2 separate regions of the Homo sapiens genome follow, and region 2 is linked to region 1. Evidence: fine-mapped expression QTL. A gene starts in region 1. The other region holds a variant in brackets. All regions are shown on one strand. Distances are from middle to middle.

Region 1 (2,919 bases):
GTTTGGTATGAGATTTGGGCCTGAATGATACAGAGGAAACAAGGAATGTGATAATGGGAGAAGGGGAGAATATTCTAGATTCTAGACCAAGTACAAATAATCCCTACGTTACTGTCTGTGTATTAGGCTCCATAGATCTAATACACAGAGATCTTGCTCGATGGTAAAATAATGGGATATGAATTCCTGAATTTAAACAAATTCTCTTTCTGAGCTCATTGTCTCCATCAGTAATAACTAGTGCACAGAACATGTGCAATAACGTACACAGAAGTGTTTTGGAAACAGAAACGTAATGTATCAAAGTTATAAAAATCAGTTTAAAACGACAAGAAGGAAAGGTTATATGATTCTTAGTTAAAAATGGAGAAGTGAGTTATGATCATTGCTGATATGGGTATTAGTATCACTTACGTATCTTTACACTGTCTCTTATTGTACTTTTTATGCGTATGATTTATTTGCCTTACCAGATTGTAAGCTCCCTGCAGCTGGTAAGCAGATTTTCAACATGGCAGCTGACACAGGCTTTTGGTTAGCTAAGATGATATATTAAGCCAATAATTCGTTTTACTGTCCTTTGGGGATCTGAATTTGTGTGTGTGTGTGCTCAGAATCCCATCTACTTTCGAGGGATTCGGGGGGCTTATGATATCACGAAAAGTTAATGAAGACAAGTATAGATAAAAACATAATAGAACCCATCTTAAATAGGACAGAAATCATAGGCAGGTAATTGTGTTAATTACTACCGCTGGCCTTTGGCTGATATTTCCGGGCAGTCAGAGGAAGAAGGAAATCGGCTGAATCCCGCAGTACCGCACTTTAATCGACCTCCAGGTAGTCATTTACAGTCATCTGCAGAGACCAACTTTTCCCTGGACCAAAACCTGCAGGGCACTTGGATCGCGTGGGCTTTCATACGAGAGTCAACAACAGCCTACACGGAACAACTAAGGAAACAGACATACATCAATATGACCCTTCGCAAAGTCTGAGAAAATAACTGAGCAAAGTTATTTACTTGTTTCTGTTGCTGTTAGAGCAAGGACCTCTGTCATGATGGAAACACTGATACCTCAACAATGGAATCCTGTTTTCTCGCTAGTGCTCTAGCCCAGGCTTGGCAATAGCAAAACAGCACCTGGGTCGCTTCATCGCCCCAAATAAACAGCCAGCATTAGCTCAGCTGCTCGCTGGCAGCCTCGGATCCAGGCGGGGTCAGTGTTGCGCACTGGGGATAGTGCCTCTGCTCGGCCTTCGGAGGGAGGGTTTCAGGTAGGCTGCTGCTAAGGGTCGGGAGCGTACTGTGTGAGGGTGGGTCTTAGGCTGATGCGGATGGGGGCAGGGAAAGAAGGAACTCAGGGCTGATGCGTTGCACAACTGCAGGGGGCACCACTGCAGACCCCCTCCTAGAGATGGAAACCTCTCGTGCCCCGTACACGAAGCAGCTGAAGCCAAGGACATTCTCTTCTCTGTGGGTCACAGGGGCCAACTCAGACCCTGAGAATAAGGGCTACCATCCCACTCCTCCCTCAGACCCCGGAGCTCACCCACCTGCAACTGCAGTCTCCGAAGTCTCCACCCCAGTCTCCCTGCCTCCAGAGGACTGGTTGCGATTGGCCTGCACCGCTGTCCCGTTAACTCTTCCGCAAGTGTGAGTGGCGTAACTGTCGGGCTCTTGGCCTTGGTCCCGCCCTTCGCTCGCCTCCGAAGCCTCGCCTACTTGACGTCATACAATGCCGCAAAGCGCAGGGCTGATCTCCGTCTCCGCCCCCAGCTGCTTTCTCCGAGAGGAGGTGGCTGAGTCGGGGGCGGGCTGGGAGGGCTGTCGGTGGGCCAGTCTGCGTAGCGACGGCCCGTCCCCTGCGCACGGACGCCGGGAAGAAGGGGGTGGGGCCACGTTTGCGTCCGCGCCATCAGGCCCGAGATAGCGGCGAGGTCCGCTTTCAGTGTATGGTTTTCCCTGCCAAACGGTTCTGCTTGGTGCCATCCATGGAGGGCGTGCGCTGGGCCTTTTCCTGCGGCACTTGGCTGCCGAGCCGAGCCGAATGGCTGCTGGCAGTGCGATCGATTCAGCCCGAGGAGAAGGAGCGCATTGGCCAGTTCGTCTTTGCCCGGGACGCTAAGGCAGCCATGGTACTACAGGTCTTTTTTGGTATTTAGAGCCTAGGAAGCAGATCTTGGGGGAGGCGGGCCGGGCTGTGGAGACCCGACACTCCCGCGCTGGCCGCGACCCTCTCGCTGTGGAGCCTGTGGCCGGCCCGGGCGACAGCAGCCGGCGCTGCGGAGTTGTGGGCGACGCACGGCCTGGTTTCCACGGCCTTTGTAACCGCCTTGGAGGCCGCGATGGCTGTAAACATTATCTCTTTCCCCTTGTTATTTCAAATGGAGACCCTCCTAAACCATGAAATAAGTGTAGGGAAGGCCGACAAAATTGGGTTTTTCTGTAATGAATGTTTTTATGTCTTTATCTTTAAATGTTATTTTTTTTTGTTTGTGTGCGTTCATAGCCTATGCTTATTCTGCCTGTTAAATATCCCATCATTCTCCAAGGACTCCCTGCACGTGGTAGGCCCTAGAAATTATTGACAGTATGATTTAGTTTGTAGCCCTGCGCTCCCCGGGATTGAAGCCAATGAAATTGAAGCCAGAGAGGATACCTTCCTCACTAGATGCCATGGGAAACAGTATTTTACGTAGATTTATTTATTTTAGCTATGTATTTTGAAGCAACAAATGGAAAACTGGATTTCAAAACAAGTAATCTGTACAATATGGTGCAATTTGAAACAACCGTGAATTACCATCATTTAAAAGACAGTCCTTTCTTAAAAATGTCCCATATTGAAACACTTTCTGTTTGAAATGTAGACTAGTTGATAATTTTTAAGGCACATTGGTGAAAATTTTTTACTC
Region 2 (2,919 bases), 58 kb after region 1:
ATAAAGCTTCTGGTATGTCATTCTCTAGCTCCAAGTGCTTCAAGCGACCCCTCATGCTTATGGAATTAATTCCATAATTTGCAACTCTTGGCAAAATATACCTTAAACTTCTTCTGTTATGGGAAGTTTTTCTATCTCCCTTCATTACTTTATACTTAAACCAAACGAAACTTTCTTCTTACTCATCTCTGTTGCCATTATTTCCTCACCTTAAAATACCTCTCATAAGCCCACTCTTGTCTTTACATGTTCCAATCTTACCCACTTACAAGGTCCAGCTGAAGTGCTGGCATTTCCATAAAAATGTTCCTAATTTCTCAGATGGAAATAATGTCTTTCTCCTCTGAATTCTCAGGTCATATGTTTGTTTCTTTTATTACAAATGTCATTTTCAGCCTTGCATGATACATCATTATCATCTACATTTTGTTCTCTTGAGAACTGAACATATATCCAAATCATCCTTATATTTGTCATCGTAGTTTGCATAACACCTTGCGTACATTGGATATTCAAGTATGTGTCACACTGAAGTGAGTGAGTGACTGTGAACATATGTTCTAAGATCATATTTGAAACAGATTTAAGTCCTTTTGATTATCTCATTAATTGTGAACACATTACAGTGGAGGCTCTGGTGTCACCTAGGGACAACTGCAGAACAAAGGCACTCGTTTCTCTAGTTTGGAGTGTTAGCTCTAGTGCTGGCTCATAGCAGAGCCCCTTCCCAGGAGCCACCTCACCCAAGGCTATGACCCTTCACTGAGGACAGCTGGCATTCAATGACTGGTTAAGGTGGGGCTCAAATGACCTGCTCTCCTCCCTACATTTGAGACATCTCTAAAGAGTCTTCCAGCTTTGAAGTTCCCCATGAGATTTACTGAATCCTCAATTGCAACTGAATTCACAGTTCATTTTTTTCTATGTCCAGTCCTTATGGAGGTGGTTCCTGATAGAATTTCCCAGTTAAGTTTCTTCTATTCAAATCTCCAACTTCTATCTCAGAATCTGTTTCCTGGAGAACTAAATCCAAAAGACATATTTATCTTCACTGGATTATTTTCTAGAATACTTTGGCCTCATTCAGATGTGACTTGGAATAGGTTTGAATCCTGCCTTTATTGTTTACTAGGTCTGTGAAATTGGAATGTTA[G/A]TTATGTTCTTCTACCAGTTACAATTATGTTCAGTGGCATATAATGAAAACCCTAAATCAATGCTGGCTAAATTATATTAAGAACATCTTTCTCTCTCATACAGGAGAAGACAAGAAGTATGGTACAGAATCCTTATGATTGGGCATAAACCAGCTCTGATCCTCTAAGGTGTGGTCTTTGCCTTAAAGATCCCAAATAGCTGCTGGAGTTCCAGCCTCACATGCACTAACAGAATGGAGAAAGCAAAGAATGGCATGATCCCACCTTTAAAGAACACTTCCCAGAATTTTCTAAAAATCTTTCTTTATATTATCATTGACTAGAACATAGTCATATGTCGACACCTAACTATGTCTAAAAAATGTAGTCTTTCAATCACACCCATGGCAAAAGTTTTGTTCTTTATAAAATGGTTTGCTATAAAGAGTTAACATATATGCATTATCTGGCATAGGTGGTGGCCAATAAATGGTCCCGAATCCCTCCTTTTATATCACAGTTATTTATTTTAATATACACTTAGTATTTTCATACACTTAGTATAGTATTTTCATAAGGCAGCATTATAGCCAAGTAAGAAGCACTAGAAGCTAAATATCAGTGAGTACTGTTTGTCAAAACCTAATAAAAGTTGTGTGACTTTGAGATCTTTGAACCTTCTTCTGCTGTTGTCATAATAGAATTGTGATATGATTAATAAAAAGATGCCAATAAATACTGGTAACTAAAACAACTCCTTTTAATGTAGGTCAAGGATATAACTAAGAACATACAGATGCTACACAGATCAGTAGAGACAGCCACAATTCTAGCCACAGGGGCAGCTGTCAATGGTCTTCAGGGTCCCACCAAGGTGCTAACAATGATACTATCAGTTGGGACAGGAATTTTGCGTGAGTAGTATCCTCTACCTTTCTCTCAGACTTTTGCTTTTTTAATCCTGCCTCTCTTGACTATTCTGTAGATTCCCAGCTCTTCTTCTGCTTGCCAACAAGATGTATATAACTAGTAACAAACTCAGCATATTCCTGAGTGCTTATACAGAGGGCAAATCAAAGGTAACTTTCCAAGGACCAATTTTCCAGGTGTACCTGTCCCCAGCATTTCCTTTCTCTAGCTCTCTAGATTGGCTCTGCCAGTTTTGTCAAGCTGATCTGGGAAGGTTATATACAAGGGTTCCTGGAACTCTTCTATAGATTTTCACTCTGACTTTCTCATCTTGGCTGTCATCTGTCCCCATTTAACATCAAGGTGAGGAAAATCACATCCCCTACATCTCTGCACTGGACAGAGTTTGAAGCTCCTAATAATAAATTGTGATCAGTACATAGCTGCTTTTCTGTAAACTGTAAAGGATTTTATGGCTGTTCATGAAAAGCTACATCTATCTTTCACTTACTGAAATCAGTGTACTGCATCTCAGAATGCTCTTGATCACACTGGATTTGTGGATATTTCTATCTGTGAATTCTGATTTGCTTTACCATATTTGAGACCACTGGGATCGGATTTAGTGTTTTCTCTGTTGCCTTTTAAATTATTCTTTCCTTGAGACCTAGTTGCATCTGAGGTTCTTTATAATTATTCTAAGCCAAAACATAGACACCTGTATTTAAGGTAATCAGGAGCACTGACACCTACTCAGGGTAAAATGACCCCACTACAAAGTCACATCTTGATGGCACATCTTGATGGAAACCAATGAAGTTGGCTTGGTTCTCATACAGAGTCAGTATGGAGTATGGGAACACCACTTGGCTTTGTC

Which allele goes with the higher level. Alleles are on the strand shown, and positions count from the first base shown. SD is a standard deviation of normalised expression in the study named.
With allele G in place of A in region 2, the expression in tibial nerve of the gene that starts at base 1,593 in region 1 is lower (small effect, 0.22 SD a copy in GTEx).

The links. PIP is the estimated chance that this variant, and not a neighbour inherited with it, causes the effect.
Region 2: its variant is the best candidate, but not a certain one, in a credible set for the expression of KBTBD3 in tibial nerve (GTEx, PIP 0.62).

Annotation. Positions count from the first base shown.
Region 1 is chr11:106,075,755-106,078,673 of GRCh38, forward strand. KBTBD3 (kelch repeat and BTB domain containing 3) reads right to left here and starts at 1,593. Exons shown (of 4, transcript NM_198439.3): 1 at 1,558-1,593; 2 at 753-953. AASDHPPT (aminoadipate-semialdehyde dehydrogenase-phosphopantetheinyl transferase) reads left to right here and starts at 1,908. Exons shown (of 6, transcript NM_015423.3): 1 at 1,908-2,139. The coding sequence starts at 1,957. RefSeq lists enhancers at 1,386-1,505, 1,516-1,625, 1,936-2,175.
Region 2 is chr11:106,134,021-106,136,939 of GRCh38, forward strand. No RefSeq gene overlaps it. Among named protein-coding and RNA genes, the nearest start is that of LINC02719, 3.4 kb to the left of the region's middle. The variant G/A (reference allele first, on the strand shown) is at 1,154.